4 separate regions of the Homo sapiens genome follow, and regions 2, 3 and 4 are each reported to be linked to region 1. The links are microRNA targets in miRTarBase. Many come from high-throughput screens and were not tested one by one. Region 1 holds a microRNA gene; each other region holds the end of a gene's coding sequence.

Region 1 (8,041 bases):
GGGACTGGGCGCATAGGGAGAGCAGACCCCGCTGGGTCTGTCGATTGTGGATGGGAGTGTGGATTTTGTGGCCGGGCCATTGGGAGCCATTGAAGAATGTTGAGGAGGAGGGTGGGGCTATGGAGTTTTCCATCTTGGAACGTGGCTCTGGAGGCCGAGTGGAGGATGCATATCCGTGGGGAGAGGGAGAAGAGAAATCGGTGCTTTCTGGGCAGGAGAAGGTGGTGGCTTATTGCTGGTGAGGGATGGCGGGCTTCCAGCCACTCCCTGCGCTGGCCCCGCGGATACCAAGAGCAGCAGTCCCTCAGTTCTTGCCCTCCAGCTGCTCCCACTCTGTTCCTAACTCTGCACCTCCAAACGTGTGGGTGGAGTTTTACAGTGAACCCCCTTGCAGCTGGATATGGCCAGCCAGAAACAGGGAGGCTTGCTTTGGTCACCAGAGGTGCTGAGCTCCTGCACCAGCTCCATTTGCCTGTCGCCAGAGGGGCGATGTTTCCAAAACCGTCTGAGATGCGGACGTCATGCCTGCTACTGTAACCAATGCATATCTCTTCTTTTTCTTTTTTTGCTGCAGCCAACTGGGTACATGGAAAACTCAGTCTCCTACAGCGCAATTGAAGACGTTCAGCTGCTGTCCTGGGAGAATGCCCCGAAGTACTGTTTACAGCTCACGATTCCTGGGGGAACTGTCTTACTGCAGGTAGGAGAAATAAACATGAACAAGCAGTTTCTTCTCCCTCATCTTCATGCACTTGTGCCCCTCGTTTCCCTTGGAGGGAGCCAGCAGCTATCAAGAGGAAAGGTTGTTTAACTTTGGGTGATTTTATTCCCCAAGTATAAGAAAGCTGTAAACCAGGTCTGACTGGAGAAAACGAAAAGGACTGTGCATGGCCTGAGCGTCTCCTGCACACCTGCTGCAGTCTAGGAACTTTTCAGGTTGCTCATTTAGTTTCCCTTAATAAACCTGATAAATAAGTTTTATGATCCCCATTTTACAGATGAGGAAACTGAGGCACACAGGTGAGTTGTTAGGCCCAAGAAGGCCGTGAAAAGCAGATGAGCAATAGATACTGACTTTTTGCATTACTTTGAGTGAGGGAGTTTCTGATATCTTGTTGATCTAAGTCTTTTGAGGCTGATAGAAGTATAAGCTATCTTTTTGGGAAAAAAAGTGCATTCTGTATGTACTGGTCAGGACGTTTGGTTGGAAATGGCACAAACATTATTCCAACTAGTGAGACAAAAAGAGAGTTTAATGCTGTTAACTATTAAATTAACTATTAAAGTAACTGGGAAGCCTTAGAGGGGACTTCAGGCATTGCTGGATCCGGGGGTCAGATGACATCATTAATATTGGGCATCTCTCTCTCCATCTCCTGGCTGTGCTTCTGTGTGCTGGCTTCATTGGCAGAATCTCACCATGTGGTAGGAAAGATGACCCACCTGCAGCCCAAAGCCACATCCTTAGAGGCTGTAATCCTTAAGAGTGAGCGCCCTTTTTCTTTCCAGTACCTTTTACAAAATCTCATGGAAGATCCTGATTGGCTCTGCCGTGTTCCCATTCAGCCCCCAGGAATTCACTCCCCCGGATTACCCGCCCACCCTTGACCTCAGGCAAGGCCCAGGTCTCGGATTGGTAGCCCCACCAGGACCACACAGAGGCGGTGAGGTGCGTCCACCAAGAATGGAGAAGTGACTGACAAAAACCACGACCACGGTCACACATACATAAGACATGTTACATCATGTCAGGGGAGCCAGCCAATTTTCAGAAGGAACCCCGAGTCTGAAACCCCTCATCTAGAGAAAATTTACTCTCTTATCAGTGGGAAGAAGACCTGCCTTGCTTTTTCTTTTGGGATCATTTTATTCCTAACTTGTTTTTCCAGGGAAACCTTCTCTTAGCCCAAAGAGATGCTTTCTAAAAACCTATTTTAGATCTAGCAGCCACTGGATTGTGTAACAGCATTGGGCTGAGAGTCACCCAGTCTGGGCTCCAAGGAATGCTGAGCTCAGTAGCGGAGCGTAACAACTTAGCATTGTTAGAAATGTCCTGTTTCTTACTGTCATCTCTCAGAGGACTCTGGAAACCACGCCTGCCCCAGTCTGCTTTCTTCTTAGTGAATCTCTCACACTCTGCCCTCTACGCTTTTCTTTTAACCCTGTCCCCACACCCCCACACTGTCCCTCCCCCCCTCCCCACCACAGCCAGCAAAGCCTTCCTCTTCTTTCTTTCTCTCCTCTCATCTTTATGATAGAGGTCAGTGTCACCCTCCTGCCAGACACTTCTGCCAGCTCCTCTGCCTCTTCACTCGCTCCTTCTTGCCCATCCGATGGCTGCAGCACAGAGTCCATGAAGGGGGTGGTCAGTGCCAGCCCCCCTCGGCGGGGGAGATGGGGCGGGCAATCACAGGGTTCAGTGGCCAACGGAGAGGTAGGGTAGCCAGAGATTGTCCTACCCCAATGACTTTGCTGTAGTCACAGAGCTTTGAGGCAGCCTCTCCCCTGTGCTCGGGGAGGCCCCATGCGTGAAGAGCCCCTCAGCCCCTGGGGAGACAGAGCCATAAACAAATGATTACGGAAATAATGGCTAAATTAGAGGCAACCGTGGAGGACTGGGAGCCCAGAGAAGGAGGAACTTATTTGGCCTGGGGGGCCAAAGCAGGCTCCCCAGACAGGGGGCATTTGAACTGGGTGTAGAGGGATGAGTAGAAGTGTGCCAGAATGGTGGGGTGGGGGCACACTCCCCGGGCAGAGGGGATGTGTGTGCAAAGCCTGAATATGGGGGACCTGGGTACTTGCTGCAGCTGGAGGAGATGGAGAGATGGAGTTTGGGGCTGTGGATATGTCTAGATCTGTTGGGCGATGGCCAGATCACCCAGGCCTTGCCAGCCAAGTGAAGAAGCCTCAGACCCTCTTCCAAAGGCAATAGGCAGCCACTGAAAGCTCTGAAGGGGTAGAGGGACACTAGAGGAATCAGTGTGGTGGCAGGGCAGAGGGGCCTAGATCTGTGCATGACAGAGAGGCAGGAGGGAGCCCCTTGAAACATTCCAGTTGGAGGAGAGGAGGCCCTGAGCCTCCACTTTCCTGCTCCACCAGCAAAGGGGCCTCATTCCTTCTGGGGCTGGAGGGGCAGCCCTGGCCTCCAAAGGAGGCCAGAGCATCACTCGCCACAGGGATGGAGGGGCAGTGAGGCTGAAAAGCAGAGAAGCAGTGCCTGGAATGTCCCTTTAACCCGGCTGTGGCCGCGGGCCCAGCTGTGATGACTCGCCTGGCCGCCGTGTCTGGCAGGGCTTCAGGACAGAGCTGCCGCCGTGGTGCTGAGGAGCCGAGCGGGCGGGGAGCCTCTAGCTGCTCCAGCATCCCACTTGCTCACTGCCCCCTGATCCCGTGGACAGCGCAGTCAGAGGCAGGAGCAGGAGAGGAGGAAGCAGAGGAAAAGGAGGAGGAGGAGGCGGCTTGCAACTCCTCAGATCCAGAGCCGGACTCCGAGCTAATGAGGGAGCAGCAGACACGGCCTCCCAACCCTTCCCCCAAGGGGAACCCAGGTGGGTGCAGCCCCTGCCCCTGGCGGCTGTGGTTCTCTCCCTGGCTGCCATTTCCGTCAGGGGAGGTAGACCTGGATCGGCTTCTCCCTTGCTTCCCTCTCATCCTCACCCCCACACTCTGCCCACCGTGATGCATGGGTGGTATGTAGCTGGCTCATTCTATAAACAGGGCTAGCGAGTCTGTGTGGTTCTAGGGAGGCTGGGGCGGGGTGCACTTGGCCCCTGGTGTGGTACTCAGGGCTTTCTTCAGTCCTGGTTGTATTCACGTGCCTTTTGTGACGGGTGGCAGGACCCTCTGCTTTGAGAGGCTGTACTTTGTCTTGATTCACATACAACATACTGTATTAGATCCCAGAGCCGTGGTGTCACAGAGAACAACCCCTTTGGCCCTGGGGACAGATCTTCCCTGCTCCAGGGTGGGAGAGGGGACCAAGAAACAGCCAGGTGCCCATCTGAACGGCATTACCTTAGTGCTCCTAGTCAGCAGATGAGTGAAAGTGCCTTAAATGGTGCCGCCCGGCACAGCCACCAGCAGCCACGCATGGCAGCCCACAGATGGATTTAATTTACTCATCAAATTAATAACACAGTTCCTCAGTCCCGTTAGCTACACCTCCAGTGGCCAGGGGCCACACATGGCCAAAGGCTGCTGTGTTGGACAGCGCACATAAAGAACATTTCCATTGACACACGAAGTTCTGTGGAGCAGTGCTGACCTCGAGGCCTTTTCATTTTGACCTCATACTGCAGGCACCTGAGCCCCTCCTGGGGCGAATCACGTCAGATCACAGGGGGCTCTTCGATCTTGCAGTCTGGCTGTGCTGTAATGCAGTCTGCACCCTGCTGCATTACAGCACAGCCATTCTCTCTACAGACAAGGGGAATGGCGGGGCCCAAAGAGGGCTAGTGCCCCTTCCCTACCCCAGCCTGCCTGATCTCTCTCCATCTCTGTCTCTTTCAGGTTCTTTGCATCCATGTGTGTCTGTTTTCCTCTCTCTCATGCCTTTTCTCCATCTCTCTCCCCTCCTTCCCCTTCTGTCCCCTCCTGCCTCTCCTCTTTCTCTCTCTTTAGTCCTTGCTGTGGCTCACTCTGGGCTTCTCTTGCAGGTCCTTCCTCCAGGCCTCTCACCACCTCTGAGCCTGTCCCCCAGTCCTCTCTGTGTGTCTCTCCCCTCTTCTCTTCCTCCTCCTCCGCTCTCTCTGTCTTCTAAGGAGCTCTTTGTAAAACTCTTACTTTGTTAGAATTTGAATCAATGCCTCTTGCAGACCTCGGGGAGCTGACCTGATCCTTCAAGGAAGGCAGAGAGGACATTCAGGCCCATGCCCCTCATCCCCAGCTCAGAGACAGAGCAATCTACCAGCAGGTTGAGTTGGCAGACAGAGGCGCCCAGCCTTCCAGCGTGGGTCCAGTTGGTGTGTTTTGGATGCTTTGTGTTTTCAGCGTGAGCTCCCTCACTGCCATGTTATTAGAATCCCTCGTTGCAGAAAGGGCCTGTTTATCCCATTTCCTCCATTGATGCCCTTTCTGCTAGCATTTCATTGTGGGGAGGCCAAGCATGTAAGTACATAGACAGTGTCATGAAAACGTCCTGAAGGTGCTGTCACTGGCCCCTGGGATGGGGTAGCAGGCATTAAAGAGCAGCGCGGCGCAGATCATCTTCTGGGGGATTCTGCCTAAAAATTGAGTGGCTGCCCATCAGCAAAAATTAGACAGAGCCGCTGCTCCACAAACAAGGCTTCAGGCAAGATAAGAGCAGGGAGACCCTCCTCCCAAGAGTGTCTGCTTCTTTCGGGGATGGGTTCCGGGACTCGGCTCTTCTCACCAATGTTCTGGAAAGTCCTGCAGGAGGCGGGGCAACTGTTTACCCCAAACATTGGCAGCAGGGCAGGGACGGGGTGGGTTCCTTTCTTACTGGAAGGTAGCAAGCAGGACTTTTCCGGTCTGGAAAGCACCAGAAAGGTCTCACTCTCTAGCTTCCAGTAAGAAAGGAAGCTCCTTTTCCCTAAGAAACTGGGCCGGGGAAGGGGAGCTTGGAAAAGGTCGCTCACAGCGCACCCTGGGCTGTTTTTCTCACCTCTCAAGACAATGCAACAATGAGAAAGAACTTGGCAAGTTTGGGAGAGGAAATTGGGCAGCGTTTGCCTGGAACCAGGCCCTTTCAGCATTCCAAAGATTTAACACCAGAAGTCGGAAGCCTGGAACCAGCTGCCCGCAGGCTTCCGGGGGACTTGGGGTCTGGCTGGGGACCTCTCCCATGTCTGAATGGATTCTCCTCTGAGTGACCCTCAGGGTTGGGCTGGGGGACCTTTCCCAGGTCTGAATGGATTCTCCTCAGAGTGACCCTCGGGGTTCCAGCCATGCCTTATGTTCCCACTGGGCTGAGTTCTCTTGGCTCAGCCACCAGCAGGACAGTATGGGGACTCTGCACAGAAGCGTGACCCTTCCCCCAGCTGGAACGCAGCCTGGTCAGCTTTCCCTTTGCTTGGAAGCCCCTTAGAGATGCCTGTGCTGGGACTCAAGACATTGCCTAGCAGCGTATGTCCTCCTTCAAAAGTAGACAAGCCAAAGGAACGAGCAGTTTACAGTCCGGCCTTGTCCCAACCTTTTTGGCTCCATCAGCCTCCACCTGCTCTCCTAGAGGCAAGTTCTGGCGCTTCCCTTAGTTTCAAGGTGAGGTCTCCTGCGTGCCACATCCTTCCTCCTCCTGCTTCATCAGTAGGGCAGCTACCATGGAGAAATAATGCTCACGGATGTCCCAACCCAAGTCCTGGGAATCCAGAGGAGCTCAGATGCATTGCTTCATGTTCCAGGGCTGGATTGCAGGGAGGGAAGACTGTGGGGTCAGACAGACCTGAGTTCCTGCCCAACTTCCCTGGGCACTAGCTCTGGATCCTTAGACTCTAACTAGCCATGGAACCCTAGGTTTTACCACATTCTAGCTGTGGAACCCTAAACAGCAGGAAGAACCTCTCTGGGGCTCATTTAATTTATCTGTGAAACGCACTCTAATACTTGTCTCCTTGCATATTGTGAGGCTCGTAGATATTACATGTAAAATACTTAGCACTGTGCCTGGTACTTAGTAGGTGTTCAAGAAAACACTGCCATGATCATTTTTAGAGTCTTAGTCAAATACAGTTTGGGGAAGAGAGGGAATCAGAGCTGAAGAGTTCTTTTGAAGGTCTGTTGTGTGTGGACTTTCTTCGCTGAGCAGAATGGGTATATGAATGCCCCATTCATCCATCCATCTATCCGCCCACCCATCCATTTATCCATCAGACTGTCCATCTGTCTTATCTGTTTTTCCATCCATCCATGTCTCCATCTATCCAATTCATTCATTCATTCAACACTTCAACCAATCTTTCACTTAACAAACATTTCTCCGGGTTTCATGGACACAGTGGTGCCTAAGTCAGACGTGGTTCCTGACCTCCCAGAGCCCATAGCCTGCAGAAGAAGGACAACTAGACAGGCGATTCCAGGACAGTGTGATGCGTTAGGCGAGGCATTCTGGCCTGGTTTGGTTGGGGATGGGGAGGGGAAGGCACCATCAAGACAGTCATTCTGGAGAAGTGGCATTTCAGGAGGGACCTGAAGTGTAAGTAGGAGTCCAGCGGGCAGCGGAGAGAAGGGGGTGACAGCAGAATGTTCCTGGTGGGGGAGTACACGCTGCATGGAAGCCAGTCTGAGAGCAGGGCAGGCCAGGTGCTGCCACAGTCACCAGCGACCACGCATTCTAGGTGGCTGGAAGCGGCACGGCATTGTTTCTAACTTGTGCTGTGTGTCCACCATGGGCCAGTGGGGGAAGGGAGTGTGCCAAGCGGTGCACGGGTTCTCAGGGGCTCCCACGCGCGGGCCACGGGTCACTTCAGCATGACATCAGCTCGTTGCATTGGCCTGTGTGCTTGCCAGGAGCCCGGAGGGAAGAGACCTGGAAATGACACAAATGATGACCCCAGCAAGTCTGGGTGTGTGTGTGGTATATGCATTGGTTTCCCCAGTGGAAATGTGGCAGTGGAGGAAAGGTTGGGTTAGACCTGGGTCCTTAAGCCGTGGTCCATGGTAGATTCCAAAACTACCTGCACAGTCCTGCGTGTGGGACTGTGGTGTGTGTGTATGTATGTCTGTATGGTTTATGTGTGTGTGTGTGTGTATGGTATGTCTGCATGTGTGTGCGTACACATGTGTGTCTCTGTGAGTGTGTATGTGTCTATGTCTGTGGTGTGTGTGGTATGTGTGCATGTGTGTGCCTGATATGTGTGTTTATATGTGGTATGTATATGTGTATACGGTGTGTATGCACATGTATCTCTGTGTGTGCATGTGTGTGTGGTATGTGCATGTGTGTGTGTCCTGTGTCTATATGTGGTGTGCATAGTGTGTATCTCTGTGTGTGGTGTGTGCATGTGTGTGGTGTGTTGTGTGATATGTGACGTGTGTGTGTGGTGTATGTGTCTATATGTGATGTCTCTGTGTGTATATGGTGTAC
Region 2 (8,041 bases), not on the chromosome of region 1:
GACTTTTCACCTGCGTTCCTTATTTCAGCTGTCTAGTCTCTTCCACACTTGGGAATTTCTGTTTCCTGTGTGCCGTTTGTCTCCACTTAATCTTCACGCTCCTCTGTTTTTCAAGTCTCCAAGCCTCACTATCCTCCTCTAACCTTTCAGTCTCTCTCTCTTAGCCTTATCTCCTGACTTGATCTTTTTGTTAATTATTTACTGTTTTCCTCTTCGCTGAAGGCAGTTGCTAACCCTATATGAACTGGATCTTTACTCCTTAAGGCATGAAGTTTTAGAAAAGTCTTAAATGACACTTGCTGTTATCTCTGCCTGCGTGTGAGTGATGCTAACCCATGTTGGTAATTCAGGCTTTTCTTTCATTGGACACGTTTCACTGAGGCTTAGAAATAACGATTTTTCTAAGTACCATGACAAATACCACATGGGAGAAGCTGCTTTTATTGGAAAACTTTCATTTATTAGGGGCATACTGAATTTTTATGTCATGTCTTTGGTTAACACAGGAGGCCCCCAGCTTATCTTCAGCCCCTTCTTGTCAAGACTCCTGTGTTCTGCTTTTAGGCTAACATTGGCTGTGACCTGACTTGGCTTGTTCATTTCAGAAATAGCCACTTTCTGACATGTTTTTCTAATTTACATCTTTGTATTTTGATGTAATTTCTCCCTTTCTCAAAGTAAAAGAACATTATAATGATTTCCTAGTGGCCAATTTTATTTTATTTTTATTCTTACAAAGTTTCATCCATACCTAGCCACATCATTTTGACTATCTCCCTAACCATCTTAGAATCTACCATCTTTCTGACCTTTGTTTTCTGACTACCATTTGTAAACCACTTGCCTATGTTTTATTCAGATATCCCTTATATCATGATGTTATACTGTTATTCAGAGTAATTTCATTTTTTCTTTTTTGAGAATAGGCCTTAACACCAGTGTCAGAGTGGTTTATAGATGTGTGCTAGCTATTTTAGTTCATTAAAAAAAAAATTTTTTTTAGGTTTCTTTTCCCTTAATAGATAATGAATGATATTTACATTTTCTGTTTATTTCAGATGATGATGGTAGGACTGAAAATGGAGCACTAGCTCCAAAGCAGGAGCTTCCTTCAGCATTAGAATCCCATGAAGTTCCTGGCACTCTCAATATGGGTGTTCCTCAAATTTTTAAATATGGAGAAACCTGTTTCCCCAAGGGCAGGTTTGAAAGAAAGAGAAATCCCTCTCGAAAGAAACAACATATATGTGATGAATGTGGAAAACACTTCAGTCAGGGCTCAGCCCTTATTCTTCATCAAAGAATTCACAGTGGGGAGAAACCTTATGGATGTGTTGAGTGTGGGAAAGCATTCAGCCGAAGTTCCATTCTTGTGCAACACCAGAGAGTCCACACTGGAGAAAAACCTTACAAATGTCTTGAATGTGGGAAAGCCTTTAGCCAGAATTCGGGGCTTATTAATCATCAGAGAATCCATACTGGGGAGAAACCTTATGAATGCGTTCAGTGTGGGAAATCGTATAGTCAAAGCTCAAATCTTTTTAGACATCAGAGAAGACACAATGCAGAAAAACTTCTGAATGTTGTGAAAGTTTAAGAAATTGAAAAAAAAAAAAGAATCAGCACTCAGGTCTTTTTCTTCAGAAATGAAGACAAAATTTAAAATATGAAATGATGCAGAATAGTTTTTTCCCTATTGACTGTCAGAAAATCCACTGGGAAATGTAAAAATCTTCACTCACCATTATGATATTTATCTTGAAAGAAATGGTGTCATACCTGCCTAGAAACTGAAATTTTAAACTTAATTCAGGTCTTAATGCCTAAATTTTCCATGTGATGTTTATAGTCTGTATTACTTCTCCAAATAATGAACTACCTGATTCATTGTCCCTTTCTTGAAAGTTTCTTTTTTAAGACAAATACATTATTTCTGCATTGATCATTGAAATGTTCTTTATATGGATACATTCCCTTATATATTAAAAGGCAACAGGAATTACAAAGTCTGAAAACCATTTTAAACCATCTTTTAAAAATTTACCCTTATTTCCTTTTACCTAATTTGAATATGCATTTGAGAAAATAAGAGGATAAAGGATGGCTAAGAGCCTCAAAATGAACCATAAGATCTCAGATAAGAAGTGATGGTGATAAAACATCAAAAAGTGAATGGAACACCTTGATTGGGGAAGATATGCAAATACTTTGATCTAAGAATTGAAATGTATCAAGAATTTATATTTTGCCTGCAGGAAAATTCAAAAGCTACTCATCCTCTCTATAATTTGGAGTCATCTTACTAATGAAAATAATGTTTTCCCATATATTATTAAAAAGCATACAGTCTAAATAATAAACAGTTGTAAAATAATGAAGGTAGAAATTATAACACTAGGGAAAAATTTGTAGCGGATGGCAGTGTTGAAGGCAAATGTAAACATAAGGGTAATGGTCTGTCATGGCTTTTAGAAAAAGATGATAGAGTTCATCATTATTTTGCCTTCATCTTTGTTAAGGACAGAAAATTCCCTGACAGGTGGGCAAGTATCAGGTTACCTATTTTTTATTCCTTTGGTACAAAAGGGTTGAACGTCAGGCTAAAAAAGCAGCCATGCATTTATTATTAAACATTTTCTACCGACAAGGCACTGTGCTAGGTACTGTAATCCTACCATAAGTAGGTAGGTATTTCTTCCACTGTAAATCATAGGGGTTTGCTGTTTTATGTGAGTTAGCCTCTTCCCCTTGTCTGAGCATTCCTCAGGGGAGGTCACCTGTGAGGTTCCCAGAACTGTAGTTTTTTTTACCAGGGTGTTGTATTTGGAGGGGGAGGAGGACTCGGCTCAAAAGAGCTAGCTGGCTCTCCAGTGTTCAGAGGTGAGTCCACGATACTCTTACCACAATTTGGAAGTTTGTGAATCTTTTTAAAGAACTAATCAATCTCTAATAGCATTGAGGTTGTACCTACATATTAAGTTGAATGGACTGTTCTATTTAAAAAATAAACAACTAGACAATTAACTAGTTTATTAACCTATCACAATTGAATTTTTTTTTAATTTTCAGTCTTAACACATTTTTTAAAATGTATTAAAGTAATACATTGTAGTAGTAGGATTATATACTCCTTGGCTGAGAATTCCAAGTACTGTGGTTCTACTGTTTAGTGGAAAACTCTGGAAGTTAAAATATAGAATATGAGAGGAGGCTTTTTTATAATGGGCATCATTGTGTGGAAAATGACCCATGTGAATACAAATATTTCCTAGTTCAGAGATTTTGGTTATATCTGGTGCTTGGATCAAGTTTAAAAATGGAAGGTGAGATTTTGCATGAGCCTATTAAAAAGCATAGTAATAAATGCAAGGCCAGCTGGTGGAAAAGTGAGGCAGAATGGAGCTTGTTTATAGGTTTTCTGATAACAATTATAAAAAATGTGCTTTATAGATTAAGATTTATTGAAGTATAAATATGTAGTAATGATATAATGTATTTTAAGTTATACAAGAAAATGTAGGGACTTTTGTTTGGGTCTTTTTCTCTTTGTGGCTGAGGGGAAACAAGTCAGTGTCCAATAAAGCTGTAAACTCCTCTGCTCTAAGATAAATGATGTGATTTATTTATTTATAACTGGCTTCTTTCCAAGTAGGTTTTCAGGTGGCATATTTGGAAGACGGCTGGAATGACAGAATTCTTGTATCAGAGTAGGTAAGAAGGGAGCAACCTCTCAATGGCTATTATGTCATGCTTTTTAAGATCGTATGCGGTTCCTATATACAAGGAAGCTTCCCTGTGGTAGATTTGTCATAAATGCCAAAGATATTTGGTAATGTGAGTGTAGAAAAAGTAGTATGAGGGTTGGCAAATACTGTTTTTGTCTTGGCAGCTCTAATATCTGCATTGTTCAGAAAGGATTCTGAGGCTAAGGCAAAGCTCTGTGGGAAAAAGGGACTGGACCAAAAAAAACTGGATGGTGGCACACAAGAAGAGGAAATGATGAGATGTGTACTTTCTATCTCTGGTTAGGCTTAGTCCCCACTAGACAAATTGATTTTAAATACTATGTAGTGATTTTTAAATTCCATCCACACATTCATTACCCACACAGATAATCATAGAAATTTGGGGGAGTGCCTAGCTTCTGATGAAGTGGTGATATGGCAGTGCCAAGCAGTGGCATCGCCAGAGTATCTGTTTGGTTAGCAAATGAGCAGTCATTTTAGGTCATGCAGATTGCTGATATCTGCCCAGTAGCCACTGAGCATTTGCTGGTTTTTTCTTCTGGCTTTCTTGGAGGTTAAGCTCTCTGTAGTCATACCCAGTTGGTACTTGATCTTTAGCAATATGTCTCATATTCATGTAAATTGAAGGGAGGGTTACATGTACTGAAATAATCTGCATGCTAGGCATTGGCTTAGACACCGTACCTATCTCACTTAGATTTGTGGACTAGGAAAGCAAGATTCAGAGATCATGTGACTTGCATGTGGCCTAGAGATAAAATTCAAATCTGGTTCTGTAGACTCCAGGGACATATTCACCATGCCATGGGTGGTGGCTATTAAACCTTGATAAATTTGTGTTTATGGTTAACAAATGTGAAAGCTATTAAACATTGCTGGTTTGAATTTTTTACAGTGCAGAAATGTAAAATGAAAAAGGATATTTCCTTTCACAGTGTTACCGAGAAGTCATGATAATTTCGTTTGTTCTTCCAGATTTAGGCATATACTTATTTAATCAATAATGTGTTAACAGCTGACACCTGTGGTTGCTGTGACAGGCACTATTTGAAGTGCTTTATCATGGATTAACTCTTAATCCTCAGCTACCGTATAAAGTAGGACATAACCCCATTTCACATGCACTACACTGAGACTTGCCTCCTCTCCCCCCACATTGAAGATGTTCTTTTTTCATAACTATATACTATTCCATTGCATGAATATTCTGTAATTTATTTAATCCCCTATGGATTGATAATTAGGTTCATTATAGATAGAAGTGTAATTAACATTCCTGTACATGTATTTTGCTACTTGTGTGGGTATTTCTGTAGGATGAATAACTAGAAATTTATTGGATCAGGTTTCACATTTGCAGTTTTGAAAACTACTACCAAAAAGATTTCACCAATTTACAACTCCATCATTAGTAAGAATGCCTGTTTGCCTATAGTCTGCCAACCCTGAATCCTTAAAAATTTTTGCCAATCTGGTAGGCAAAATTTCTTTCTTTTCTTTGAATATTAATGAGGAGGAACATCTTTTCATGTTTCTTGGCCATTTGCATTTCCTATTATGAATTGCTTTTGCCCATTTTCCTTTTTTTAATTATGAAAGTCTAATGACTACCTTCTCATTGTATAAAAAACACAGTTCTTTGAATAGAGAGACCCTTTTCTCCAATGCTACCAATCACATTCCACTTACCACAGTTTAACATACATCCTCTAGTCACCTTTCCGTACGAATATACATACACATAAAAACACTTTTTACATAAATAGGATCTCATATTCTGTAGCTTTTTAAAATTTTGGTCTCAAAAAAAGATAACAGGTCTTTAAATTTCTTTAATGGTTGAATATGATTAAATACTATGAAAATGCCATTATTTATTCCCTTAATTTTTTTCCTCTCGCTATTACATTGCCAAAGTAAACATCCTATTCAGATGTCTTTGTGCATGTGTGTGAATATTTCTTTAGTCTGGAGTCCAGTAAGGTGGATTTTTGGATCAAAGGGTTTGTTCTCTGTCCACCTTCAGTCTTCCCAAAGGCCTTCATAACTGTATTTTCACCAAGTGTATGGAGAATGTTCATTTCCCCATATAACCATACCTACACTTGATAGTTTTTATCTGTTGGGCGAAAAAGAACCTTTTCTTATTTTGCATTTCCCTGATTATAAAAAAAAATGGTGAGATTGGGGTTATTTTCATGTTTATTGGCCATTTATAGTTTACTGTGGATTGTTTGTATCCCTTACCTGCTTTCTATTGGGTTATGTGTGGATATATTGTTTTTATTTGTTCAGCATCTCCTTCCCCATCTTCTGGTAACACAACCTTTATTTATTTGTGGGGAACCTATTCCCTGTGGCTTAGGTGAGCATGTGACCAGGCCTGGCCTCCTGAGTCCCACAGCTTCCTAGCCACAGTGATAAAAGAATGGGTATATAACTTAAGCCAGGCTAAGGAAAGCCCTTAACAGAACTTCTGCTGGAACTACTGGAAAGAAGGCTTTATGGAGATCCCAGGAACCAAGGACCATGTAAGCCTGAATTTGTGCCATGTGGAGAGAGTCTGTCTGAGGAGAAACTCGGATGCTAGCAGAAATGGAAAGAGAACTAAGTTCTGATGTCATTTTTCTGGAGGCCCTAGATCCAGCTGTGCCTAAAGCCTGCCCTACCTCCGGACTTTAAAGTTTTGTGAGCCAATAAAGTCCCTTTCTTGTTTAAGATAATTGAATTGAGTTTCTGTTCTGATTAATATAGGTTATTTGTATTTTCTTATTGATTTGTAGAAAACCTTTGTAATTTTAAATTCTAGACTTTATGCACTATATAAGTTAATAAAATTAGCATGGCCTTCCATGATTTGGCCTGTGTCAACTTTTGCCATTTGTTACTCCATTCTCCCTATAACACACACCCCACACACATACACTTTACATTCCAATAGTAACAACATTGATGTTGGGAATGTGGATGAACAGCTTTTTACACAATTGCCTCTTTGGCAGTTCTCTTCTTATTCTTCCTCTAGACTCATTAACCTGGGACTTTAAGGGTTACACTGCTGAGAGCTGTACCCATCTCCTACCATTGTTCTTGGGGGATTCCCCTCAAGCATTCCCTGTATACAACCCTTGGAGCCCTTCCAATGACCTCCATCCCAACTCCATGGTTCTCTGGCTCTTTGTTTCATTCTCAGGCCTGTGGACTCAAGACGTGAATGAGCACACACAGACCTGAGCAGCCTCACCCTGTGGGCTCTTTTCTATGGCCAGAAATGTAGCAGCGCTCTATGTCACCTGGCACCTCTATTAATCACATCTCCTAAGATGGAGTTTTCAAAGAGATGTCTTTCAAAATTGAGGAAAACATTTTGCAAGCTTTTATTCAACACATTTAAATGCCTACTCTGGGTCAGGCACTGTTATGGGATTTACATCTGTTGCTTGCGTGTGTGAAAAACTACACGTGGCAGTGGAAAACCAAAAGTAAATGAGAAACAGTTTTTTAAGAAAGCATATTGTATGTCATATGATGAGAAGTGGTTAGGGAGAAAATAGGAAAGGGATACAAAATGTCAAGAAGGAAAGATAGTGCAATTTAGATAGGCTGGCCAGGGAAGGTTTTCACTGAGAAAGTGACATTGGAGAAAAGATAGTATAAGGAAGCAAGCCATGAGACTGGAGAGTGTTCCAGGCATGAAAACACCAACTGCAAAGCAAGCTGATGTAAGAGCAATGCCTCATTTGTGCAAGAAACCAAAGAGGCCCGTACGGCTAGAGCAGAATGAACATGGGGGGAATTAGGTGAGGCCAAAGACAAATGTGGTGAGGGTGGCAGGGAGAAGCTGGATCATGGAGGACCTGGTTAGCCATTGATAGAACTATAACTTTTTCTTTGTAATGAGAGACCATTAGAGGTTTTAAGCAAATGAGTAATGTGACAAGGTGCTGAGAACAGCTGAGCAAAACAAAATCTCCATCTAGTTTATCTAAATTCTTAAAATATTTCTTTACATATTTTCTTATGAAGGTAATATAATAGGAAAAGTTTAGAAATAAAAATCACCCAAAAAGTCATGCGAATCCATAATCCTAATAACATCCCAGTAACATTTTTTATTCTCTATACACCTATATAAATGTTCTATCTATATACCTCTCCCCATCTATATCACACCATTATTCACAACAAATACATATTTAGGAAAAAAAAGTGTGTCTATATGTCTATATACGGCTTCCTTCTTTCCTCTGAACTTTAGATCAACTGTCTGCTTCTGCCTAAGGCTAACCTCTCCA
Region 3 (8,041 bases), not on the chromosome of region 1:
TGCTGCCTGTCTTCGCTTGAGGCTGGAAGTGGCTGCCCGACGCCTTGCTCTCCGCAGTTCTGCTATCTTTGCGCATGGAAGTCTCCAAGAGGGGCTCCAGGAAGCAGCGAGCAGGGAGGGGAGCGAACGGCCAAAAGGAGATCCGGGGATGGGACCCCAGGCTTCTTCGGAGGAGGCCCGGGGCAACTACGCCCCGCGGCCGGGAGGGAAGCCCTCGGGCGGCCGCCTGTAGAGGGCCCCGTGGCCCGGGGCGCAGGTTGTGGCGAGCTGGTTTTTGCCTCTGGGCCGAGGCGCCAGCGCTAGCAGCGACAGCAGCGGGGGGCGCAGGTTTCTAGCCAGTCCCCACTTTCGGACCTCTGGGGGTCTGCCCTTGCTTCTCGGGGAGTCTTGGCCCTTGACTGATCCCCGCAACTTAAGGCCAATCCCATCCCTAGCTGGCCGGCACCTGTTCCAAACAACCTGTTGCGCTGACATCGCTTTGGAGAGGCGCCGGCGCTTTGCTGGTGGAGGCGGGTTGTGTGGAGGCCCCAAGCCTTCAGGAAATAGTTTAGGGTTCCGTTGTGGTGAGAGGCACCCCCTCCCCGCTTCCTGTGGCATGTGGGGTGTTTCACCTCTGCCTGTGTCCCAGGAACCCAAGGCGTCCTGGGCACCTCTGCACCTCGCCCACTCTAGGGACTTCTCATGTAGAGCTCGGCAGTTTGGGTGGATTAGACAAAGATGAGGATTAGAGACACACCGCCGGCTAATTAAATGGGCTCTTCTCCTCTCCTCGTCCCCTCCCCGCAACCCGCAGCCAGATAGGACTCTTCGGTTCCCTACCCCCACTCCTAGGCCCTATGTAAGTGCGGATGGAGAAAGCTAGTTACATTAGCCCTTCTGTCTTAGAGGTACCGGCACCTCGGGGCATTCTCGCTCTTAAAGATGCGTTTTCTGAATTATTTCTAGTTTTACAATTTCTCTTCGGTGACTGCACAGGATCCCTTCTAGCTCTTTTCCTGTTGGAGTCGCTGGACGTCTCCCAAACAGCTAGTTAGTCGCCTATCTCTGGAGCGCAGGCCTTCGGAATTGGATTCAGGGTATGAGTCTAGCTAGGGGATGTTTCTAGAAGTTTTATAAAATCCATTTGGGCAAGCGTTGGCATTCGGATTTTAAAAATATAGACGTGCACTGGCATTGGGCAACTCAAAAAAAAATGTGTCTCCTGGCGCTTGTCAGTGACATGCTAATTACAAATTTTAAAACAAGCCACTTCTAAGCGAAGGACGCCTGGCTGCAACCCCACAACTCACACCGGTGCATATAATAAAATATTAGGGTTCAACAGTTGGCATATGTGGCAATAGCAAATGTGACACCTCGAAGCGATTATCTGGAAGTTTTTCCGTACTTTTGAAAATACACTTGCCGCCTCATTTCTCTGATGGCCGCTCAATAGACACTGGGAGATGGTAGCTGGGCCACCCCTCCCAAGAGTTCTTCTTGCGTGCAGCGCTTTCATCCAGGGCTTGAATTGTGTTGTCAAAGTTTAGCAGACAAGAGGAGGGGGCATGAGAACGGGAGGGTGTCTTGAAAAGTCTTGGAAATCGGTGTATTTTGCAGGTGTAGAAGTGCCTAATAACCATGGCTAGTGCGCGCTCCCCAATGGCGAGGGTATGACAGGGACAGCTGGCTCAGTTTTCAGTGTGAAAACACCCCCTCGGTGGACCAAACACAACGACACTGACCTTTCTTCGGGGGGAACCAGGGATGTGCCTTTGACTGAATTAGCCATAAAGACGTCTTGCTATGACTTTTGTTCCCCACGAAAGCAAAGAAATATTGCGTTTAATATGAGAAGTACTGTTCACAGCTTTTCCGTGCCCCTTAAGAAATATTACAGTGCTGATTTACTGGCCTTCTTCTACCGAGTTGGCCCCAAGGGCGGCTGGGGGTGGTGGGGTGGGGACGGGGCAGTGAGGACAGAGGAGGAGGCGGAGTCAGAGAGCTAAAGTGCCTGTTGCCTGTTTCCAAAGTTCTCTCTTTGCAACAGCAAATTTATCAATCTTTTCATCTGACAATACTTTGAAATATATCATTGTCATCTAGAGTTGTTTGATAGATTATCTGCAGGCACACAGCCTTTTTCAAGGTCAAGTTGAAGATTCTTGTTTGCTGTTTAACTGGGTTGTTTCAAAACTCAGAACAATGCCTGCCTGTTAAATTTTCACTTGTTCTCATGGGGCATTCGAAAGCAAGTTTTCCTATTGACCAGGTCTCTGGACATTTCATCCTCTTGAGCTAAATTCAGCAAACAAGGCTTAGGAATGAAATCAACAGAAGAAGAAATGAGATTTAACTTAGCATTTGCAAATGCCAGAGAGATTAAGTCGTCTTTCATATCTGCTCAAAGTGTGTACTAATTTTTGTCTGCATGTTGCAGGCTGGTTATGGCCAAACACATCTCAACTTTGACTTTATTCCAGTGGGAAGCAGTGAACACACTCCCCTAAACCAGAAAGGCAAAGAAATTGTGGCCACTCTTGTTTTTGCCAGTGCATAACCTGTTGTTCTAAAGGCATTTTAAAATAAAGTCAGCTACTTCTAAGTCACTATGTTTTATAGACATATTTATTTCTATTTTTTAGTGGAAAGACTGGCTTCACAGTTTTCTCTATATCTGCGATGATTGATTTTTTTTATTCAACTAACTTTTATTTACCTTGCAATAATGTTCTGGACCAATGTGATAAATTACAGATATGCAAATTTCTTTCAATGGTGTTGTAAGTGTGTCTAGCTGGAGCTGAATAACTCCTTGCAAGTCAGTCTGTGCGTGCTCAGGACCCCAGGGAGCTGATCAAAGCACCCATTCTCTTTCATCCCCGGTATTCTCCTCCAAACTATTTCGATACAATATGTTTCCATGATGCACTTAATGTGCTAGGGACATAGAACTCATTACAACCTAGCTAGTTCTGCGGACCTCTTTGTTCCGCGGCAGAAAGTCAAAGAAAAAAGGAAAAGCGCTGCCAGTTGCCAGCTTTCTGAAATGCTAAAGCATGCGTCATTTTTCACCAGGTCTCGTCTTGATATCCTCAAAAGACAAACTATGAAACCGGCCTCAGCCCTTTCTGGCATTAATTACACTGCTGTCCAGCCGATCTGTTTTTCCTATTATATGCATTTCTCAGCAGGGATTTTTTTTTTTTTTTTGTAAGACTAATGCAGCTGCAAGTTAAACTATGAATGCATTTTCATCACTATGGGAAAAAAATAAGTAAAAAAGTAAAAAGGCTGCAAAACATACAGCAAAACTTTTGAAGGACTTCTGATGGACAACAGATATAGGGCAGGACCTGGGTGGTTTGCAATTTCTCCCAACCTGAAATTGGCTGAGAGCCTCAGAAATTTCCAATACATCCAGGGTTCTGTGGAGACCTTTATTGTGCCATTTGAAACTTTGCTTTGGTACCCAGATAAATCTTGAAGGTTCAAGTTTCTATTAAAGTTCTGAAATGAAGCAGTTTGATATCACACCCAACCAGGAGGCTGCTTCCAAGGAATTTCTGTCCAGGACGATGGCACAGAGAATACAAATTTTATTTCATTTCCTCTGTTTCTTGTAGGGTTGATTGGTTGGTGGAAATGGCTGGCAGCCAGTTCTGGGAAAGATTCCAGACCTGACTCCGATTAACCCTCTCTGGTGAAACTCTGCTGGAAACCAACTCACCAGCAATTGCCATTAATCTACTTACTAATTAAGCCAATTCATTTCTAAAGGAGAAAAATTCCTTTCTTTAGCCAAACTGATGGGAGGAAATTTGAAAGAAGCGCCAAACTGTGTAACTGTAATTCAGCCAAGGACTGCTAAAACAAGGTGTTGATATATAGCAGCAGATTTAAAACAAGTTTCTAGGGCAACACTCCTTTGGAGACAGCGGCATATAGTGCATAGTAGATGAAGCTCGAATAACGCTCCACAGCGCTATACCATCCCATGTACTTGCGTTGAAAAGAACACGTCTCTCTCCAATTAAATCTTGTTCCTTTTACGCACAAATAAATCACCTCTGCAGCTTTCTTTTGAACTAAAGTATATCAGCTTTATGTGACAACTACCACAAATATATTTCCTGAGACTTAATAAATAACTGTAGAATTCTGTAATCCAGAGCCTACGATTCAGATACAGGCTCTTAACAAGGCCTTACTTGTAGTTAGGGGAATAGAAAGAACCAAGTTGGACATTACGCATGGAAGAAAAGCAAACCCGCCTTTTGGTAAACGGTGTCTGGCATTCCAGCAGAATCTTGGTTTGCATCCTTACCAGGAAGCAAAACTCCAAAGAGTTTCCCTACTTACTAAAGAATTTCTGACAGCCTTTAAGATGCGGCTAGGTGCCCTGTGCCGGGGTAAGATAAGAATGAATCTTGCTTGAGGAAATGTACGATCTCCCTGTAGTCTTCATGACCTACCTTCATGGGGACTAGTTATTGGGTGAGGAGACAGCAAAACAGGTTGATGCTTTTGGTATAGAAAGACTGGATTAGAGAGGGAGTCAAACTTTTTAATTAAAGTCCGTCCCTTCCCACTCTTAGACGCCTGGGCTCTTCTGAGTCCCCGGAGCTCCTGAATGGATGTGGTTGCCCCGGAGGTTCAGTGCGCCCCGCTCACCCAGCACCAGCCAGGGCTTTCCTTAAAGGCGTGGAAAGGAGCGCGCACAAGGCGCGCATTGAGGTCTATTCGAGCGCAGTGCTGGTTAATATACATAATCTGGAGAGATTAAACAATTAGTTTAGAAAATCCTTGGAGATAGTATCCTTTCCGAGGGAGGCACCTTACACCAGGACGGCGAGGCCACTCTTTCTGAGGCCCCGTCTGCGCAGCCCAGGCTTCTGCTGGGTTAATCAACAGTCTCTGCGGGGCTGCTCTGGCGCATGGAGGGCTCCTCCAAGGACTCTTCTTTTGGGGATTCCGACAACTTCCCTAAACGTGAAGAAAGGTGGACAGACATAAACTTTGTTTTACTTATCATACACAGACCACTTCCCACTCTTCCCCCAAAGCATTTTGCGTCATTTTTTTTAGTGGGTCTTCCCAGCCCTGGCCCTAGCTGAGAGCCTCTTCAGGAACCTGGAAGAGAGACGGTGAAGGAGGTAGGGCAGGCAGGCAGATTATCCTTGGCCTTCCAGACAGCGTGTGCCAGCCAAGCTTTGCTCTGAGACAGTCTGGGGCTCTCCGGCAGCCCCAGGCTGCAGGAATGGTCTCAGGTGCCCCTGATAAAGGCCAGTACTCAACATTCTACTTGAAGCCGTTGTAGCAGAATAAAAAAAGTGGGAAGAGTTGTCTGTGTTTGGGCCCAGGGATTTGATTTTTCCAAGTTTTAAATTTCCATTTGCCTTGCAATGGAAATAGACGGGGCCTGTGAAATAGAAAATTATGAATGAGAAGGAAAGGAAACCACATTGGCCCTGGGCTCTGAAACTGGGGAATGGGAAGATGTCCCCACCCCCTAACCTCAACGTTGGGCTCTCTGCCCTGTGGGGAGGAACATTTACCTGGTGCGTAAATTGTGAGGAAAGCGTTGGGGGTCTGAGACAGGAAAGCCACAACATGGGATGTGATGTTCCAGCTTTGAAGGGGAACAAAGGCCCTGGGCTAATCCCAGTGAAAGCCGGGAGCGTGGAGAAGGCAACAAAGCATTGCAGCCTGCGGTCACCGGTAGGTGTCAATGTGGACACTTATAGCCGGGGCAGTGGGAGAGGGGAACACAGAGGAGCCAGGCTGTCATTCCAAGGCTTAACATGAACAAAGATAAAAACGTGACAACCTCGGCTTTCAATGGTTGGGAGGTTCAAAGTGGAGTGCTCCAGAGCCTATCTGGGTCAAGTCTTTTCTGCAGAAGGGCCTTTCTTTTTCTAGTCAAGTATCAACCAGGAAAGCCCCAAGGGCCTTTTCCCAAGGTAACTTTTCTTACTCAAAGCTTTCTTTAAAGTAATGTCCAATGCTACACACTGCCATAAAGATACAGAGCTTGTGAGATGCCTGGAAATAGCATAAAGGGCATTGTTTTCTGCATCCCAGAAACTCCAGGAGGCTGCATTCAGCCCTTATGAACTTGAACAGGCTACCTAAACTTTCTGGATAAGCTTCGTGTATTCTTTTGCACATTTAATGAAAAGAAATGAAATTTCTTTTTATAAAACTATGCATACATGTAGATGAGTCAATGGGTTCCATAATTTAGAAAAGTACTCATCTTACAAAGAAGTTCTGGTAGTACAATGTTGAAGGAATAGTGGAAACTTGCTAGAGTTAAGTATACTGGAGATTTTAGTCTATTAGAAATCAGCAGACGAGGAATTTACCAACAAATAAATGTCCTGAACAATCTGGGAAAGATAATTAAGAATCTTCTACTAATACAACCCATTAACAAAGATTATCTTAGAAAATCAATAAATGGACATGATAAATTATGTTTATATGAATAACTCAGAAACATTGCTTTTTAAAAAATTTTAACACTAAAACCAAAATACAACTCAAAAAATCATAAGGTAATAAAATTCTTATTTTCTTTAGTTGAAGTAAGTCTCCTAAATAATAAAAAAAGGATGTAAATATCCTTAAAAGACTAATGACATTTCACAGGTAATGCAATTTAGAAAGAAACACTTCCATGTTTTCTTTTCTAACAATGTGCATTTTTGTAAACTGCTATAAATTGCAATTCAAAAGCACTGATCTCGCCATCCCCAATCATTTTTTATACTGATCAAATGAATGCAGATACTCCCATTTGGGAGGGGCAACATGACATTTCACTTGGCAGTTCTAAACAGGTCACAGACCTTTCACAGACCCTAAGGCAGTGGGAGGGAGCTCTTTACTAAACCGTGTAACCAAATCAAACCAATGGTTACCCCTTTTCAAAACCAATGGAATGGTTTGCACAATGCTATTCACATAGCAGTACAGAAACTGAAAGGATGGTCATCCAATGGAAATTTCTTTCCTTTTGTTTAAACTTGCAGAGCTCAAAAAGTAATACTTGAGGGAAAACAATTACATGTGCTGTGATAAAAATAATAAAAAATACACATGCATTTTTGTTGGCACCACAGGGCTCAGCTGTAACTGTCCATTTGTATGTATATATATGCACATGTATATATGTATATGCATGTATATTTATTGAAGATGTTGCTTTGTTTGAAATCTTCGGCACAAAGACACAACAATGCTGCCCTGGAGATGACCTATTGCTTTCAAGTTGCTTGAACACATCAGAATTTCCATTGTTAGGGTTGATTAATTGAAACTGATAAGTTACCATGAATAAAGATTGTTTTTCTGTTTAATGTGGTGGGCCTGATTTGGTAAATGCCTCATTCATGTAGCTTTGCAGTGCAGCATATGGGTAAAAGTCATTCAGTATCACAAACATATACAATTTATTATGCTTGTATGGGCACAGCCAAAGCCCTTTCTATTTTAATGACAAAGTTTCAATGAAAAATTTCATTTAAAGAGTCACTAGTTACATGAAGTGTGAGTTTATAATTTATTATTAGAGTTTCTAGCTCTTTCTGTGGATAATTTAAAAGATATAATATTTTAATATAGTTTAAAAAAGATGTATATCTCCAAGTTATGCCTCAGCATTAGTCATTGGAAAAAAAGCAGAATCTATCTTAAATGTTAGCAGACACACATGAAGAGAAAGCACTGTCATCTGATGCCACCTCTGTGCCATACTCTTGATAAAGTTACTACAAATGTTTCATTGCAAGGCCACCAATTACAGCTCACACTGCCCAGTTTACGAGAAAATGCAAAGGAGCTTGTTTGGTGAATAACATGCCAACTTCCTAAAGGCTTTTTTTTTTTTTTTGTCTTAATGAATGAAGTCAGAAGACAACATTTTGAAAATAATTTAGGGACTATCACATGAAAAATCCCAGTGGACTTATTAATGTCCACACAATTTAATTACTGTGAACTTCCTTTACTGGAAAGCTGATGTCACTTTGAAAAGAGTTAACTACATTAAAAATGA
Region 4 (8,041 bases), not on the chromosome of region 1:
TGTCGCCCAGGCTAGAGTGCTGTGGCGCGATCTTGGCTCACTGCAACCTCCATGCCCCGCCTTCCCCCATGTGAGGTTCAAGTGATTCTCCTGCCTCAGCCTTCCAAGTAGCTGGGATTACAGGCATGTGCCAGCACAGCCAGCTAATTTTTGTGTTTTTAGCAGAGATGAGGTTTCACCATGTTGGCCAGGCTGGTCTTGAACTTCTGACCTCAGGTCATCAATCCACCTCAGCCTCCCAAAGTGGTAGGATTACAGGTATGAGCCACTGCACCCAGCCGTATTTTTTTTTCTTTAAGCACTTTCAACATATCATCATCTTACTGCCTTCTAGCCTGCAAGTTTGCTTTAAGATGTTTAATGATAGGCTGGGCACGGTGGCTCACGCCTGTAATCTCAACACTTTGGGAGACCAAGGCAGGCAGATTGCCTGAGGTTGGGAGTTTGAGACCAGTCTGGCCAACGTGGTGAAACCCCGTCTCTACTAAAAATACAAAAAAATTAGACGAACGTGGTGGCGTGCGCCTGTAGTTCCAGCTACTTGGGAGGCTGATGCAGGGGAATTGCTTGCGGAGGTTGCAGTGAGCTGAGGTGGTGCCACTGCACTCCAGCCTGGGGCAACAGAGAGAGACTCCGTCTCAAAAAAAAAAAAAAAAGAATTGTGACAGGTGTGACAGGGAGACCTTTCCCAATTAGCCTGTTGTAAAGGGTGTGGGAACACCTCACTCCTGGGATTGTGTCTCTCCTAGCTTTATGCGTATATTATACTATTACTAATGTCTATACAACTGCTCTTAAATGTCTTATTTTCTCTAAGAGGCTCATCCCTGCTTTTTCTGAGAAGCTTTCAGTTTCTGTTCTATTTTTCTGCCCTTAATCTTTCTCAAAGTCACTCATAATCCTCCCGAGTCCTGCAGATTCCCCACTGCTCCAATGCATCACGTCACCCCCTTGTGTTTTCAGCTCTCACAATGTGACATGCAAAGTATGCCGATACTTCTTCCAGTGTCTGAGTTGGGTGAGGCTGATTCTGGTCCCTCCACCAGACGGTAAACATGCCAGAATCATGGGTTCATGTTCTACTCTTTCTTCTTTTCTAGGGAGGAGCTGTGTATTGGGAAGCAATGCAGAAAACAAGCCTATTAAAAATCAACTTGGATTAACCCTTGAGGCACATCTGTCTGAATTGCAGCTGTTTCAAGCCGGAAGGAAAATTTACAGAAGTAATCAAGTTGAAAAGTTTACAAACCATCGTTCCTCAGTTTCACCACTTCAAAAAATTTCTTCTAGTTTCACAACACACATTTTTAATAAATATAGAAATGATCTTATTGATTTCCCATTACTCCCACAAGAAGAGAAAGCATACATTAGAGGAAAATCTTATGAATATGAATGTAGTGAAGATGGTGAAGTTTTTAGAGTCCGTGCAAGCCTTACTAACCATCAAGTAATCCATACTGCAGAGAAACCTTACAAATGTACTGAATGTGGCAAGGTCTTCAGTCGCAATTCACACCTTGTAGAACATTGGAGAATTCATACTGGACAGAAGCCTTACAAATGTAGTGAATGTGACAAGGTGTTTAATCGCAATTCAAACCTTGCACGACATCAAAGAATTCATACTGGAGAGAAGCCTCACAAATGTAACGAATGTGGCAAAGCTTTTAGAGAGTGTTCGGGACTTACTACCCATCTTGTAATCCATACTGGAGAGAAACCTTACAAATGTAATGAGTGTGGCAAGAACTTCAGGCACAAATTTTCTCTAACCAATCATCAGAGAAGTCACACGGCGGAAAAACCTTACAAATGTAATGAATGTGGCAAGGTCTTTAGTCTGCTTTCATACCTTGCACGGCATCAAATAATTCATAGTACAGAGAAGCCCTACAAATGTAACGAATGTGGAAGAGCATTTCACAAGCGTCCGGGCCTTATGGCCCATCTTCTAATCCATACTGGAGAGAAACCTTACAAATGTAATGAATGTGACAAAGTCTTTGGGCGCAAATTATACCTAACCAACCATCAGAGAATTCATACTGGAGAGAGACCTTACAAGTGTAATGCATGTGGCAAGGTCTTCAATCAAAATCCACACCTTTCACGACATCGGAAAATTCATGCTGGAGAGAATTCACTGCGTACCTTACAGATGGAATGAATGTGGCAAAATCTTTAGTTAGAATTCACACCTAGCACAACATTGGAGGACTCAGGAGAAAAACCTTACAAATATCATAAATGTGGCAAAGAATTTAGTTTGCATTGAAGCCTCATCACTCATCTCTTGATCCACACTGAAAGGAAACCCTACAAATGTAAAGTTAATAACATATATAAATAATCTATAAAGAGAGAACAGTTATATCAGAATAGAGCATTTAATGAAAACTACCAGTATAGCATATTCTTGAGTAGGATTCACATTTAACTGCTGGCACCGTAATTTGTAACTCTTTGATTTAGAATGTACATACTTCTCATGTTTTAAGTAATAAAGTTTAAAGTTTTTTTTTAGTTTTTTCTTTTTTTTTTGAGACGAAGTCTCGCTGTATTACCCAGGCTGGAGTGCAGTGGCATGATCTTGGCTCACTGCAACCTCCGTCTCCCGGATTCAAGCAATTCTCCTGCCTCAGCCTCCTGAGTAGCTGGGATTACAGGCATGTGCCACTACTGCCCGGCTAATTTTTGTATTTTTAGTCGAGACGGGGTTTCCCTCCGTTGGCCAGGCCGGTTTCAAACTCCTGACCTCAAGTGATCCACTGGCCTTGGCCTCCCAAAGTGCTGGGATTATAGGTGTGAGCCACAGCGCCCGGCCTAGTTTAAATTTTTCTTAGTGTGAATGAATTACATCCTTTCTACCAGCGTTGTTTAATCTTACCTCAGGAGGATACTTTATAGTAGAGAATAATAACCCATTATGATTTTAAGGTTGAAGCAGCCAGAAAAGTGTGTGTGTGTGTATGTGTGTGAGACATAAAACAACATACGCTTCTGGGTGCAATATACTTAAGTAAGTATGATGTTGAGTAATTACACTTAGTACTTGAGTTAGTTTCTCTGTACTCTGGTGTAGGATGTTTATGTGGGTAAAGTCAAAATCACTTTAATAGTACAATTTCAGCCTTGTACACCCTCAAATGTGTGTGAGTGTTAAAGAGTATGCCCTGTATTGTGTTTCTACATGCCTCTTTCTTGTGTGCCAAATAAGAACTATGGTGTGCACCTTCATTTTCATGCAGCAAAAATATATAGTAATATGACAAATATTAGGAAATAAAGTATGGGTTGAGGGCAAAAATACTGTAACATGGCCGGGCCTGGTGGCTCACGCCTGTAATCTCAGCACTTTGGGAGGCTGCATTGGGTGGATCACGAGGTCAGGAGATTGAGGCCATCCTGGTCAACATGGTGAAACCTTGTCTCTACTAAAAATACAAAAAAAAAAAATTAGCTGGGCCTGGTGGTGTGCACCTGTAATCCCAGCTACTTGGGAGGCTGAGGCAGGAGAATCGCTTGAACCCAAGAGGCAGAGGTTGCAGTGAGCTGAGATCACCCCACTGCACTCCAGCCTGGTGACAGAGCAAGGCTCCGTCTCAAAAAAAAAAAAATAATAATAATACTGTAACACAATTTCTTTTTGTACTTCTAGTGTTCAGTGACATCATTTGAAAATATTAATGTTCACCCATCTTCTTTTTAAGTCACACACAGAAAGGGAATTTTGTTTTGGTACATTAACTAGAAACTTCATATAGTCACCCTCACAACTCTTTTGGTAATTTGAATTTTTGACCACTCTTCTGGAACTTGTTTGAAGTCCCCCTAAGGTTTGGCTTGGATCTTGAGAATGATGATCCCATACACTGATATGGTTTGAGAGTGTTTATTATATAATGAGGCTCTGTGGGGGAAAGCAGGGTATACTTTTCCAGCTGGTCCAAAAGTGGCTTCAGAGAACTGGGATAGGTGACTGGCTTGGGGTGTCATGATTGCTAAAGGGTAGGGCTGGGGCGGGGATACCCACTACCCATACTGGAAACTTAGTTACAATTCACACCTAGCATGTATATTTTTATATTTTTTGTATGTATATATATTTTTACATTTTTTTCCTACATTGCCTCCAAATTCTATGTTTAATACATTTCTTCCCTGTTTTGCTCTGGTGAAAACTTTAGGGGACAAATAAATGAGTGCTGTTTGGAGACAAAATTTTGTGACATGGGACTGGGCATTGTGGCGTGTGCCTGTAGTCCCAGCTACTTGGGAGGCTGAGATGGGAGGATCACTTGATGCCAGGAGGTCGAGGCTGCAGTCAGTGAGCTGTCTGCACTTCAGCCTGAAAGACAGAGGGAGACCATCTCAAAAAAAAAAAAAAAAAAAAAAAAAAAGTTGTGACCTGAGTATGTCCATAAGACAATGGCAGGTATACACTAGGATTAATATAAATATGAAAAAAAAAAAAAAACTTGGCCGGGTGCGGTGGCTCACGCCTGTAATCCCAACATTTTGGGAGGCCAAGGCAGGCGGATCACGAGGTCAGGAGTTCAAGACCAGCCTGGCCAACATGGAGAAACCCTGTCTCTATTAAAAGTACAAAAAAGTAGCCCGGTGTGGTGGTGGGCGCCTGTAATCCCAGCTACTCGGGAGACTGAGGCAGGAGAATCGCTTGAACCCAGGCGGCGGAGGTTGCAGTGAGCCGAGATCGCGCCACTTCACTCCAGCCTGGGCAAAAGAACGAAACTCTGTCTCCAAAAAAAAAAAAAAAAAAAAAAGGAAATTGCACATTCCGCCCTGGCAGGGTTTTGCATTTCATATTTTAATTTGCATCCCCTTCATAAACAATTCAAGGACTTTAAAATTCCGGAAACTAGTGTTTATTATTCATTTATATTTATTTATTTTAATTATTTATTTCCAATTTGTTATTTATGATTATGTATTTATTAGGCGCAAGGTTTCTCTCTCATGCCCAGGCGGGAGTGCAGCGCACGACCTCGGCTCACTGCAGCCTCCACCTCATGGGCTCAAGCGATCCTCCCACCTCAGCATCCGGGTAGCTAGGACCACATGCGAGCGCCCCTACAGCCGATTTAAAATTAATTTTAATAGCAGGAATTTTCCTGGATCTAATCATCAACAAACTTTCCCTCTGCCGGGACACAATCTATTTCCAGATAGCTGAGTTCTTCCAGTCTCCACGGCAGGTCTAGCCTCCAAAACGAGACGAGCTGGGAGCGAGGCGGAGGGAAGCGCAGGCTCCGCCCAATCCCACCCGGGCCTGGCCTCGCCTCGCCTCTCAGCTGCGCGCGCAGTTTCCTGGAGACCCGGAAGCAGATTACGTGGAGTGACGGTCATGCTGCGGCGTGTGAGTTTCCCTTTGTTTAGATTAAATCTGGGATGCTGAGTCCCCTCGCGCTTCTGTACCCGGCATCTCAGGGGTCACACAGACCTTGAAATCCCCGCATCGCTCCCTCCACCCCGACTAAACTCAGACGTTCTAATGAGAGTCTGGCGGTCGCTTCCCTGAGTGTTAAAATCGCTCGGAGGCTGGTCCTGTCCCCGGTCTTTCACCACAGGGCCATGTAGACAGCTCCTGTCGCGGAGTTTGCCTGCTTCAAATCCTTCAGTGACCCCTAGACACGGCCCGCGCTGCGTAAAGTTCTCACCCGCGAGATGGATCCACGTCTTTCCGGTCCCCCAAGCCTCGCCCTCTTTTCACAGGCCTGCCCCCTTTTCTGTGCCTTAAATGAGAGGAAATCGATCTGATGTTTACTGCTGATTGTGATGTTTCAGCCTCCATTGGGCTTTTGCTAACACCTAAATAAATATTTAGTGGACAAAATTAGGTTAGTGCAAAAGTAATGGCAAACCGCGATCACTTTTGCACCAACCTAATATTTATGGGCCGGGGCTGGAATTCCATCTTCTCCGGAGGCCCAGGCTGGAGAATTCCTTGAGCACAGGAGTTTGAGACCACTCTGGACAACATAGTGAGACCCCCATCTCAATTTTTGAAACATATGTTTCAGTACGGGTATTTAATAGAGATTGGAATTCTCGTTTCTATGTTTTTACATGGTCTGACTTTTTGAAATAGTTTGAAATAATGTTTATAAACTGAATTGAGCACAGTTTATACATTTTTATTGTTGCAAACATGCTGAAATGCACATTTGCAAAAACAACGACAGCCAGGCACAGTGGTGCACGCTTGTCATTCGAGTTACTCGGAGAGGGTGTCATTTGAGGCCAGGAATTCAAGGCTGTAGTGTGCCATGAATAAGCCACTGCACTGCAACCTGGACACATTAAAAAACGAACAAAGACAAATATCTAAAAAAGAGGTTATTGACAGACAACTCTTTCAGTTGTCACATATATGTTTACTAGAGTATATGTGTGTGAATGTATATATGTATATGAATAAGTGTGTACATGTGATGTGTGTGGATGAGTGCACAGATGAGCAAGTCTATTGTTTTTATCAAAGGCGCATCATCAGTTTATATACGTCTTATATCTTTTAACAGTTGAAATTACATCTTATATATTTTCATGACCTTAAAATTGTTCTACACTGTTATGATAGTGAGTCTATGGCTGTAAGGATAGTAACCTGTTATGGGGATACATGTGCGACAGTTTCTTGATTTTAATCCCGGAACTTATTTTAACTATACTCAGTTAGGTCATTGTCTGTCAATTTACTTTTGATGCTGATCTGTTATTGTTTGATGTTTTTTTTTTTCTTTTTCTGAGATGGAGTCTCTCTTTGTCACCCAGGCTGGAGTCTCGCTTTGTCACCCAGGCTGGAGTGCAGTGGCACCATCTCAGGTCACTGCAAACTCTGCCTCCCGGGTTCAAGTGATTGTCCTGCCTCGGCCTCCCAAGTAGCTGGGATTACAGGTGCCCACCAGTACGCCTGGCTAATTTTTTTATTTTCGGTAGAGATGGGGTTTCACCATGTTTGCTAGGCTGGTCTTCAACTCCTGACCTCAAATGATCCACCTGCCTTGGCCTCCCAAAGTGCTGGGATTGCAGGCATGAGCCACCACGCCTGGCCTAATTCTTAAAGTTTGATTCTAATGCCCAGACTCCTGGGATCTGGCGCTTACTCTGCCATTTTTAGCCTTCACACCTGGGGCAAGTTTCTTAGAATGTCTGAGAAAGAGTTGTCTCTTCAATAGGATGGGAACAGATTGTTCTTTTATGGGCTTTTGTTGTTATAGCCGTTAGTACATGTACAACATTTAGAAAGTGCCTGTCACATGGGAGGTGTTCAAAAGCTTCATCCTGGCTGGGTGAGGTAGCTTACGCCTGTAATCCCAGCACTTTGGGAGGCCGAGGCGGGAGGATTGCTGAGGTCAGGAGTTCAAGACCAGCCTGACCAACATAGTGAAAACCTGTCTCTACTAAAAATAGAAAAATTAGCTGGGCACAGTGGTGGGTGCCTGTAGTCCCAGCTACTCGGGAGGCTGAGGCAGAAGAATCACTTGAACCTGGGAGGCGGATGTTGCAGTGAGCCAAGATTGTGCCACTGCACTCCAGCCTGGGCAATAAAGTGAGACTCCATCTAAAAAAAAATTATATATATTGTATCTGACGCTTCTATAGAAATAACTGTGGGTTAATTTTTTGTATTTCTTATGTTGTCCACAAAATTAGAAATCTCTACTAATTTTTTTTTTTTTTGGAGACAGAGTCTCGCTCAGTTGCCCAGGCTGGAGTGCAGTGGCACCATCTCGGCTCACTGCAAGCTCCGCCTCCCAGGTTCACGCCATTCTCCTGCCTCAGCCTCACGAGTAACTGGGACTACAGGCGCCCGCCACTACGCCTGGCTAATTTTTTTGTATTTTTAGTAGAGACAGGGCTTCACCATGTTAGCCAGGATGGTCTCGATCTCGTGACCTCATGATCCACCCGCCTTGGCCTCCCAAAGTGCTGGGATTACAGGTGTGAGCCACCGCGCCCGGCCTAGAAATCTATACTAATTTAAAGAATATCAGGTTGGGCATGCAGTGGCTCA

The links. Region 1 holds the annotated microRNA hsa-miR-6504-5p (UCUGGCUGUGCUGUAAUGCAG, at 4,360-4,380, shown strand). A microRNA usually pairs through its seed, bases 2 to 8, with sites in the 3' UTR of a target mRNA and lowers its output. Matches are read on the target gene's strand: a 7mer-m8 pairs with bases 2 to 8, a 7mer-A1 pairs with bases 2 to 7 and ends in A, and an 8mer does both.
Region 2: miRTarBase lists ZNF24 as a target of hsa-miR-6504-5p. The part of its 3' UTR that is shown has no 7-base or 8-base seed match.
Region 3: miRTarBase lists C10orf67 as a target of hsa-miR-6504-5p. The part of its 3' UTR that is shown has no 7-base or 8-base seed match.
Region 4: the mRNA of ZNF610 is a reported target of hsa-miR-6504-5p. Seed matches in the 3' UTR shown: 8mer at 2,948-2,955.

What each region holds. Positions count from the first base shown.
Region 1 is chr16:81,606,993-81,615,033 of GRCh38, forward strand. It overlaps MIR6504 (microRNA 6504), which reads left to right and starts at 4,356; the gene lies at 4,356-4,416. It overlaps CMIP (c-Maf inducing protein), which reads left to right. Exons shown (of 21, transcript NM_198390.3): 2 at 575-700. RefSeq lists an enhancer at 1,570-1,799.
Region 2 is chr18:35,330,788-35,338,828 of GRCh38, reverse strand. It overlaps ZNF24 (zinc finger protein 24), which reads left to right. Exons shown (of 4, transcript NM_006965.4): 4 at 1,059-6,602. The coding sequence ends at 1,597. Among named protein-coding and RNA genes, the nearest start is that of ZNF24, 9.6 kb to the left of the region's middle.
Region 3 is chr10:23,199,291-23,207,331 of GRCh38, forward strand. C10orf67 (chromosome 10 open reading frame 67) reads right to left here. Exons shown (of 16, transcript NM_001371909.1): 16 at 3,406-4,965. The coding sequence ends at 4,883. Among named protein-coding and RNA genes, the nearest start is that of PTF1A, 11 kb to the left of the region's middle.
Region 4 is chr19:52,364,598-52,372,638 of GRCh38, forward strand. It overlaps ZNF610 (zinc finger protein 610), which reads left to right. Exons shown (of 6, transcript NM_001161425.2): 6 at 1,101-3,181. The coding sequence ends at 2,170. ZNF880 (zinc finger protein 880) reads left to right here and starts at 5,326. Exons shown (of 4, transcript NM_001145434.2): 1 at 5,326-5,380. The coding sequence starts at 5,369. RefSeq lists enhancers at 5,008-5,307, 5,318-5,427, 5,628-5,767.